Regions from separate parts of the Homo sapiens genome. Here region 2 is linked to region 1. Evidence: fine-mapped expression QTL. A gene starts in region 1. The other region holds a variant in brackets. All regions are shown on one strand. Distances are between the middles of the regions.

Region 1 (5,365 bases):
CTGGAAGACCCTACAAAGAAGATCTTGAACAGTAAAGGCCACCAGGAGGACCCAGCAAAGAGAGCCCTCTAATAGAGACCCAGTTAGAGAGATGGGACAGAAAGTCCTAAACTCAGAGACCTCTGGAGGTGCCACTGAAGGGGAACCCTCAGACACTACAGAGGGGCCAAGACCCAGAAACTGCACAGGGAGGCCAGGTAGCCCTGAGGGGGGAATGGGCTGGGGAGGGAGCAGGCAAATGGAGAGAGATGAATTGGGCAATCTACCCCCAGGTACATGGAGATCCCGCCCTGAGGAATCACCCCACCTGGGGTTTAGCTCAGTCTCCCCCCATGTGTCGGGAATACCTGCTCACAGGGACAGGGTGGAGAAGGTGTCTGGGCTTCTGAGAAGCATCAGCCAGGAGCTCACTCCTGGGGAAGGCATAGAGGCCAAGCCCTATGCCTCAACCTCATCCTCTGGTGTTCTCTGCTCTCTGCTATATCCTCTGAGGCCCCAGGCTGCCTCCCTGCTGGGTCCCAACTGTCCCACCCCCTCCCACTTCCACAGAATGGGAGCCTCCAGTAGACAAGGAGGTGGAAAACCCCCAGGAAGTCTGTGATCTTGGTGCTAAAAAACTTCCCATCCACTGCTAAGCCCACCTTTCTGAAGAGACTTGCTCCCATTCAAACCCTGGCCTTCTCTGCGGGCAGTGAAGGGGAGAGCACCTACCCGGGGATCTGCCCCAGGTATGCCCAGTCTAGAAACAGACTTTCCTCAGACTCTGGATGACACCCAGTTGGATGGCTTCTTCCGCCTCACCTAGCCTTTCTGGCACGTCCTGGAGAGCCACTCAGTGCCAACATCTCACTGCCAGTCTGCCTCTCACTCAGCCCTGCCAGGAAACAGCATCTGGGGAACTGGGCACTCCAGGTCCCCTCCCTCCGGGCACTCACTGACGCTTGTTTTCAGGCTGGGTAGGCCTCAGGCCTGCTCTGCTTCTTGGGGTGGGTCTGGAGCATTGCCTCCTCCCTACTCTCCCAGAAAGGAGACCAGGTAACAACATTCCCATCAACAGCCCCGAAATCCTAAAGAAAGATCACTGGGTCCTGCCCACTTTGAGAGTAAGTTGCTAGGTTAGAAATGGCCAGGTCAGGTACCGCTTTCTTCACTTGTTCTTTGCTCAGGCCCTGTGACCTCCAGAAGGCCCACCCTAACAGGAAGCCCCAAGCCAAGCCCAACCTGGCTGCCTGGCAGCTCCTGCCTTAGCCCAGCTGTGGAAGGAGGAACAGCAAGGTGAATGGAGGGGCTGGGTTCCCTCCATGCCCACCTCTCATTCATTCATTCAGGGAAGCCTGACTCCCGGCAAAGCATTTGCATCTCCTAGGTTTCCACCCCTTAGGGAAGGAAGGCATGGGACATGGAACCCAGAGGATGTGTCTGTCACCATCCCTTCTCAAACACATGGGGGCATGGCCCCTGCCCCAGGGGCACCTCTGTAATTGCCCCACCTCAGCCACTTCTCCTAAGCCCCCCAACCACCTAAATGTCCGCTTTGCCTCCATTTCACACATATGCCCGGACACCAGCACACAGCATGTGGACATACACATTTCCCTCACTTATGCACTCCCAGGTCCACACCCCTGGCTGAGTGAGTGAACCACCCATCCCTGCAACCTCCTGAGACTATGACAGTTCAGTACACCCACGTCCCATACAACTGCCACTCCCCAGACCGGGGGCTTCGAAGCCCTCCCGCCCTTCACCAGCCCCCACCCTCATTCTTTTCCAGGGTTTCTTATCCCAGATCCCCTCCCTTTAGTCCCCAAATACTGACCGGCACCCACCCCAGGACAACCCGCTATCCACACCGCCCTCTCCTGGCCGCTGGGAAACAAGCCCCCCTCCCTAACCAGAACGTTGTCCCTCTCCTTCACCCCTGCCCACGCGCAGTGACACCTGTCAGAGCTCATTCCCTCCGCCCCTCACCTGTGTGCATGGACTCCAGATTCACCATCCTGCCCCAGGCGGGGCCAAAGCCAGCGCCCCCCCAGGCCCCTCGCCTCTGCCCCAGCCGGGGCCCCTGCGAAGCCAGGGTCTCCTTCCTCCAGTTCCCGGCCGCCGCCGCCGCGGGAGCCGCTGCCGGAGCCGTCGCCGCCACTGTCGCGCGCTCCGCTGCTCCGGCCCGGGCAACACTCGGCGCCGCCAGGATTGCCACACTCCCCAGGTGAGCACGCGGCGCGGGGCGGGGGCCGCCGGCCACGCCCCCTGGCAGGAGCCCCGCGCCTGGCCCCAGGCCCATGCAAAGCAGTGATTTGCATACATGGAGCTGGGGACCTGGGGAGGGGGCCGGGGGTGCTGCCGGGGCGGGTCTCGATCCCGCGGAACACCTGCCTGCTCCAACCCAGCCTGGCAGCACCTCCTCACCGCGCCCGGAGTGGCGCCAACTCCTGGTCCTGCTCGCCCTTTTTAGGAAGCCCTGGCGGGTTCTCCAGCCTGAGCCCGAGCTTCCTTCTGGACAGATCGCGAAGTGTAAGCGCTGCAAGGAGTTGGAGTGTTTGGAGAAGTCGCGGGGGTCTGCTGGAAAGAATTCAGTTTTGGAATCTCGCCTCCCAACCGCTTACCAGCAGTGTGGCTGGGACAAGGTTCTTCACCTCCCTGAGCTCATTTAACTCACCTGTAAAACAGGACAGGTGCTAATCGGGTTCCCTATTGGGCTGAGCAGGTGACCAAGCTCACCTAGCCCCCATGGCATCCTCACAGCATTGTGGGATTTAGACGGGGTGCAGTTTATTATTAGCAGAGTTTCCAGGTGCACACAACTGCTTCCTGCTTGCCCCTCCAGTCTCCCGCCCCAGGTCCCAGGTTGCTGTGAGGCTCTACGAGATGATGGATGTGGAAGTTACCAGTGCCCAGGCTTTTGGTGACAGCCACCTTCCAGAGCGGGGAAGCGGCTTGCTCAAAGGTGCACACTTCCCTAGTGACAGAGCCTGGCTGGAATCAGGTCTCTGGACTCCCACTCCAGTGCTCTTTGCAGCACCCATCATAGGCTCACCCCTTTCTCTTCGTCTCTTCAAGTCCCAGTAAGTGGTCTGTCACCACAGGATGGCCTGCATGGAAGCCCAGAAAGCTGTGTGCAGACAGGAGGGCAGGGCCTCGCTTTCCTTCCCAGACAGGACTCCTCATGAACATGTCTTCTCCTTAGTCCCATGGGCTACTTTCTGAGCACAGAACAGGTTTTGGGCTTTCCTGCCTCTACACCTTGTTTACAGTGTCCTTTCCCCCTGGCACGCCCATCCCACCGTGCACTCCAGTCATGCCCACGATAACACCCAGCATTTCGTGTGCCTTCACTGTGTATCAAGCACTGGGGTGACCAACACTTGAAAGGCATCTTTCGTGCCTTTAGTTCTTGTTTAGTCCTCAAAACCTGTACATTGTACTATGATTATTGCCATTTTATAGATGGGGAAAATGAGGCTTAGAGAGTTTAAGTTCCGTGTTCTTTTTTTTTTTTTTTTTTTTTTTTTTTTAGACAGAGTCTTGCTCTGTTGCCAGGCTGGAGTGCAGTGGTGCAATCTCGGCTCACTGCAACCTCCACCTCCTGGGTTCAAGCGATTCTCCTCAGCCTCCTGAGTGGCTGAGACTATAAGCACGTGCCACTACACCCAGCTAATTTTTGTGTTTTTAGGAGAGACAGGGTTTCACCACGTTGCCAGGATGGTCTCGATCTCCTGACCTCGTGATCCACCCGCCTCAGCCTCCCAAAGTGCTGGGATGACATGTGTGAGCCACCACGCCCAGCCTAAGTTCCATGTTCTTAACAGCCTTCGTGGCAGGTTCTGAGGGCCTTTTCTTAGCTTACCCCCTGGTTGGTAACTGATCAATTGCTTCATTCTAGTGCCAGCACCCCAGCACCTAGAACAGGGCTGGGCACACAACAGGTATCAGAAAGTGTTCTGTGGGTGCTACAGTGGCCCCAGAGGAACAGGAAGCACTTAATTGCTTCTTCAGGTCCACATACACCACCCTCCCCAGTCACATGGACCTCCCTTCCCCACGCTCCCGAAAAGAAGGGAGGAGAGAAACTTCTTCTTGCTTCTTTTTCTTTTTCTTTTTTGAGATGGAGTTTCTACCTTGTTGCCCAGGCTGGAGTGCAATGGCATCATCTCGGCTCACGGCAATCTCCGCCTCCCAGGTTCAAGCGATTCTCCTGCCTCAGCCTCCCGAGTAGCTGGGATTACAGGCATGCGCCACCATGCCCGGCTAATTTTGTATTTTTAGTAGAGACGGGGTTTCTCCATGTTGGTCAGGCTGGTCTCAAACTCCTGACCTCAGGTGATCTGCCTGCCTCGGCCTCCCAAAGAGCTGGGATTACAGGTGTGAGCCACCGTCCCCTGCACTTTTTCTTGTTTCTTCTGGGTGAGGAAAGAGACCAGCAAGGGCTTATTGGAGGCCCAAGGGGGTCCCTCTCAGGACACTCTCAGCCTCTGTTCCTTCCTTCCCTCCTATTCAACACTCCCCCAACTCCCATCCCCTTCTGGCCTTTTCTTCTCCTCCCCAACTTCAGGTTTGGCCCCTTCCCTGAAGTCCATTTCTTACCTACAACTGCACTCACCTACCACCATTCTGGAAAAATGCCTGCACACAGCTTATATACCCCTGTGTGCTTGTGATTTCCATATCTCTATTTGCATATTATTTGCATGGCCATGTGCACCGAGGGTCTCATTCTCCGACCACCTTATCTGGGGCCCGTTGCCCTTTTTCATGTGCAAAGTCACATTTCTTCTCTGGGCTTTAGTTTTCCAAAAGTCAGAGAGGCCCATATTTGATAATTTCAAAGGGCCTTCTGTCTCCAGCAGCCTAGGATTCTGGGGTTCTGGGGGGAATGGGGATATGGAGTTCTTGTGGGGATTGGGGTGGAAGCTGAGGCACAGATAGGACCTTGGAGGTTCACAGCTGGAGGCACAGCTTTGGGTTCCAAACTTGGAGTGTGGAGGTAGGAGGATGAACGGGGCAGAAGGGGCTGGGTGGGGAGAGGATAGCAGATACTCCCTCACATTCATTCATTTACTCATTCACTCAATGAATATAGATTGAGTGCTTCCTACGTGCCAAGAACTGTGCTCCATGCTGAACATACACCATCTGATTTTAGTCAGTGCCACTTTAGATGGAAGGTACAATTATTAGCCCTGCGTTACAGATGAGAAAACTGAGGTTCAGAGAAGTAAACGCAGCTAGTAGACTACAGAGTTGGTATTTAGACCCAGGGCTGCCAACCCCAAAGCCAGGATTTTAGTCCTGCCCTCCAGTTTCTGAATCTGAGCTTCCCCTTCTCTTATCAGATAACGAGGTAGAAAGAACCTAGATATCATTG
Region 2 (5,365 bases), 22 kb after region 1:
ATCTGATAAGGAATACATGAAGGGTGAATGAACAACAGCATGGAAGAGTTCTCTGAGAAAAGCGGTGGGAATGTACTAGGGGAGGAGGGGAAGGGTCGTGAGTGCTGATGAGGCTGGCAAGGGGTCAGGACACAAGCAGGACGCAGGGTCTGAACCAGGCTGAGGAGTGGGAGGCTTCCTCTTGTGCCTCTCTGGAAGTCACTGGTGGGTTTGAGCCTGGGGTGACATGAGGGACCTGTGGTTTGGAGCTGAATCAGACTCTGCCTGAGGTTGTGAGAGTGCCTTGGATCTCAGTGCCCCAGTCAGATGGTCTCTGTCCTCATGGAGCACCTTCTGCCCAGGCAGTTAGTCATCCAAGCCCTCTGTGACCTGCCTCTGGCTCAAGAGCAGCGACTCTAGCCTATTCACATGGTGACCCTGGGGTCTGTCGCACAGCTGGGGCTCAATGCTTAGTAGCTGGAGGAACGAATGAATGCTCTAGGGCCTCCATCAACCCACTGGCCTCCAATGTGCAGACACTCTTTCTTCTCGGCCTTGCCTGCAGCTGGGCTCCTGCAGGCTGATAGTGCTACAGCTGCTATTTTGGCATCTAGAAGGTTTAGGGGATCATCTAGTTCATGGCCCAGTGAGGTTCCAGCAGGGAAGTAACCTTCATGAGTCACACAGTGGCAGAGCCAGGGCCAGAAGCCTAGACCTCCTGACTCTGAGTCCAGTGATCTTCATGCTTGTCCTGGCTCCCCTCCGTAGCCCTTGTCCAGATACTCAATTCCTCCCTGTGCCCATCCCAGCCATGCTGTCTGACTGGGATCCACCTGTGTCTCCAGAGGGAAGGCTGCTCTGGTTCAGCTGCACTGGGGGAATGCGCTGAGAGACGGCAGAGCACCCCTGGGCAGACATCCTGTGCTCAGCACTGAGGGTGGGGAGGGAGCCCCTGGATCCCAGGGGATAGCGGGGCTGTCACACCAGCCCTGACTGGCTTCCAGACTCAGATAACACTGGGAAGAATGAAACAGGCTGTTTTGCCACGGCCTCAGCCGCTGTTCCTGGGGGTTTATGTTGCTCACGGCTGAGCCTAATCTCAACTGATGCACAGGCTCACACGGCTTCCCCATTCGCGCACACCGTCCTCTTTCACAGACAAGCTGGGTCTCAGTCTCCTTCCCGCAAGGTCTCCCAGTGGCTCCTGTTCCACATTCCCATTCCCTCCACAGGGGTGCATCTGGGCCTGTCTCCTCCCTCAGTCTCCCTGTTGCCGGCAGAGGCGGCTCCCCACCGTCTCATCACACCCCTCTCCGCAGTCCCCACGCCCACCCCCCCTGTGAATTCCCCATCTCATGCCCAGCGTCAGGGCACACCCCGCATCACCCTCCTCACTTGCTCGATTCTCCTCACACGCCTCCTCCCGATGCCACTTCTCATAACGTGTGTACACACACACACACACGTGTACATGCGTGCATGTGCAGGCACACACTCTTACCGCATGTCATCACCTTGCTCCAGCCTGCCCGGTCTCCTCTGGCACCCTGCCTTCCCATCACGGTCCCTAGCTGGCCCCACTCTCCAGGCGCTCTTCCTCAGCCCCTCCCCAGAAAGCCCTGGGGTTTGGGGGGAGGCCCGCCTGCAGGAGAATGGAAAGCAAAGGGGGCCAGGGCAGCAGACTGCCCCTTCCCTCCACACCCTGCTTCCAGCCACCACTGTCCAGTGCTGGTCATGGCCCAGGCTGCAGGTCATCGCTCTAGGGCCACACAAGCCACTTGGCCCCCTCCCATTCTTCCAACCCTCTTGCTCCTGGACAGCTGGCGCTCTCTCCTGGGAGTGTCCTCTGCCATCTTGGTCTCCTTCCTGTCACACCAGAGAGCATGATTCTGGGGCCCAGGCTGAGCCAATCTAAATATTTATTCCTCTGCTCCTGGCTGGGGCTGCTTTATGGCTAGAGAAGTGGCTGGCTTCGCTGGGCTGGGGAGGGGAGAGGGGGTTTAGCCTGCAGAGCCAGCCAGGAAGCAGTGCCTTCCTAGCCCCACGGCAAAGCTGGAAGCACCCTGGCTGCTCTGCCCAGGCTTCTCGAGCAGGAACGGGGTGGATGGATTCCACCCAGAGCCAGGCCACGCACATCCCGAGGCCAGTGCCCAGGGACCTAGGCCGCCCCATGATGAGATGCCAGCATCCCCTCAGGGCTAGGCCTGGACAGAGGCTGCTTGTCTTGGGGCATTAGCACAACCACTCACCCAGAGCAGTGCTCCTGCCCCCAGCCCCTCCCCAGAGCAGTGCTCCTGCCCCCAGCCCCTCCCCAGAGCAGTGCTCTGTCAGCCGAATCCCAAAGGTCACCACTGTCCTGACTGCTGCAGGAACAATGTGAGGCTTTATGTGGATCAACTGCGCCCCACTGTGCTGCTGACTCAGTGCTCCT[G/A]AGACGGGTCTCCATGCTTCCCTCTCACCCGCACTCCCAGCCCTGATGCCTCTCCCTGCCCTTTATCTGAATCCCTAGTGGCAGCCACTTCAACACTTGCCAACTTCAAGGATGTTAGCTCCTCATGATGCTTTGGTCCCTACAGCAGAAAAGCAGCAGCTGCAGCAACATGCTTAACGGTGGGGTAGACGGACATCCAAGCGGGCACTGGCACCTCACTCCTCACATGCCCACGCGGGCCTCTGTTCTGCGAAGGGCCTCTTAGTCACTGCGCACACTGAACCCCAAGCATCACACTGTTGTCTCTGGTGTACCGGCAAGGAGCCTGGGGCTCAGAGAGGTTAAGTGACTTGCCAAGTCACACAGTGGGTAAGTGGCAGGAAAAAACGTACATAGTGATTGCTCACTAGTGTCTGTGAGATATTTTCTTTTCTTTTTTTTTGAGATGGAGTCTCACTCTGTTGCCCAGGCTGGAGTGCAACGGCGTGATCTCGGCTCACTGCAACCTCTGCCTCCCCGGTTCAAGTGATTCTCCCGCCTCAGCCTCCAGAGTAGCTGAAATTATAGGCACACACCACCATGCCTGGCTAATTTTTGTATTTTCAGTAGGGACAGGGTTTCACCATGTTGATCAGGCTGGTCTCGAACTCCTGGCCTCAAGTAATCCGCCTGCCTCGGCCTCCCAAAATGCTGGGATTATAGGCATGAGCCACCACACCTGGCCTTGGTGAGATATTTTCCAAACTCATCCCCCTCACCCAGCTCCCCAAGAGGCCATGCAGGGGAGAGAGGAGTTGCAGGCATGGCCAAGTAGCCAACACTCCATCCACTGGAGGTAAGAGCGTGGGGGAAGTGGTCCAGCCCAAGTCTGTACAAACGAGGGTCTCTGTGGATTTGTTCCTCTGCACCAAGGTTTTTTCCAGCCTCCTTCTCCCCTCCACCTCCCTCCCCAGGGTTCTTTAGCCTACTGGAAGGAGCCCACTCATGGTACCATGGCAGACAGGCAGTCAGGATATACTGGAAGGAACCCTGGGTCCTAATCTGGGATCATCAGCTGCTTCATCTTGTCAGCCTCACTTGAGAGCTCCAGGCGATCAGATAAGAGCATGTGTGACATGAGGGACTGCTCAATGGGTGATCTCCAGACCCTATGCAATCCTCACTTCAAGGCTGGGCCCTCCGCCAGCGGAACAGGAGTCTGTCCTAAGTTTATCTCCACCACCTCTCTGTGCCTTGGGAAGCCTGGGAGGGAACTAACTCACTCTCCCCACCAGCTTCCCAGCAGGATCCTCCATTATCCCAGGTGGCAGTCTTCATGGCCTACCGGGATCTTTTGCTAGGACTCCACCTGGACATAGCATTCAGGGGTGGGAGATGCTGGCCAAGCTCCCGGGAGGGGGTCTGAACCCTCAGGCAGGGCTGGCCATCCTGATCTGAGGAGGAATTCCTCACACGCAGAGGAGGGACAGATATTAGACCCAGGAGCCCCATGTCAGTGAGCCTGGTCATTCCATCTGGCGACTTCTTGTAAATACCTGTGAGGAAATGCTCTGAGCTCCAGAAAAGTCTGGGCCTCTCCCGAAAGCACCTCCACTGCCTTTTCCTCCCCAAGGAGACTTTCCATCCATCAGATGCTTCCACGCCAAATCTTAAGGGTGCTAACACAGACAGGGTAGGGGCAGACTGGGCCCTGAAAGCTTCTCGGTCCCACATCTATGTGCTGTGATATCTCCTTGGGATACACGTTCTTAGGTGGCAACGTGGACATTGCACATTCCACATCTTTACTGACTGCACCTCAAGGCTTCCCATGTTGCTCCCCCACCCACAGACCAGGCCCCCCGGCACAGGGGCCCTAGCATTCTTTGGACTATCCCTTCCTCTGGCTCCCACTCACTCATCAGTGCCCAGGACAGGGCTCAAGCTTCCATCCTCCATGGGTCCTTGTCCCTTCGAAGCGGCCCTGAGCTGACCCACACAGCTGTACAGTTCCCCTTATCTTGCTTATTCCCTCCAGGGCTCCAGCTGTGGGCCTTCAGGATCCCCTCCTTCCACACTTTTGGAGTCTGTGTCTCCCTATCCTCCCTGATGCTGGGAGGGGAAAGGGACCCCCACCGCCCACCACCGTGATGCCATCACACATGACCTTCTTCATATCTGTCAGTATCACCCTCCCCATCCGGTCAGCCCCAAGGCAGGCAGCCTGGAGCGTGACTCATCCTCTTCCCAGCTTTTGGCCACTCGGACTAGGGGACAGAGGTGAAAGAGAAACTGGCAAGAATACCAGCTTCCAGGAGGTAGACCAGAAGGGCTGTCAAATAGCCAGTTTAGGGAGAGGGGATGGTGACACACCTATGATTAGATATGCCAGTGATTATGTACATCCAGGGCTAATTACACCCATAGGATGTGGAGTATAAAGGAGAGTGTTGCCCACCAAGGGCGCGCTGTGAATTAGTTTGTGTACTGAGGGCACACAGCATTAGGCCCGAAGTATATGTGCTGCTCAAAACACATTAGGATTAGTGTGGGTAAGATGACAGGTTTCAAATATGTGACTGAGTTTGGGCCCTACCCTCATTTAACCTGAGCTGGCTCCTTCTCCAGGTCCCCTCCCCTCCCCTAGAGCAACTGCGCCAGTGGTTCCCAAACTTTGCTGCACACTGGAATCACCTGGGTTCTTTTGTCACCCAGACTGGAGTGCAGTGGCGCGATCCAGGCTCACTGCAACCTCCGCTTCCTGGATTCAAGCGATTCTCCTGCCTCAGCCTCCTGAGTGGCTGGGACTACAGGTGCATGCCACCATGCCCAGCTAATTTTTTTTTATTTTTTATTTTTTAGTAGAGACGGGGTTTCGCCATATTGGCCAGGCTGGTCTCGAACTGCTGACCTTGTGATCCGCCTGCCTCAGCCTCCCAAAGTGCTGGGATTACATCACCTGGGTTCTTTAAAAGA

Direction of the effects. Positions count from the first base shown, and alleles are read on the strand shown. Sizes are in standard deviations (SD) of each study's normalised expression.
For the expression in transverse colon of the gene that starts at base 2,203 in region 1, allele G in region 2 goes with a lower level than allele A (moderate effect, 0.53 SD a copy in GTEx).

What was found. PIP is the estimated chance that this variant, and not a neighbour inherited with it, causes the effect. A credible set is the group of variants that fine-mapping cannot tell apart.
Region 2: its variant is the best candidate, but not a certain one, in a credible set for the expression of POU2F3 in transverse colon (GTEx, PIP 0.67).

What each region holds. Positions count from the first base shown.
Region 1 is chr11:120,236,978-120,242,342 of GRCh38, reverse strand. It overlaps POU2F3 (POU class 2 homeobox 3), which reads right to left and starts at 2,203. Exons shown (of 13, transcript NM_014352.4): 1 at 1,972-2,203. The coding sequence starts at 1,999.
Region 2 is chr11:120,215,066-120,220,430 of GRCh38, reverse strand. All of the region lies in intron 1 of OAF (out at first homolog), which reads right to left. Among named protein-coding and RNA genes, the nearest start is that of OAF, 6.7 kb to the right of the region's middle. RefSeq lists a cis regulatory region at 2,314-2,327 and enhancers at 2,248-2,392, 2,209-2,792. The variant G/A (reference allele first, on the strand shown) is at 2,411.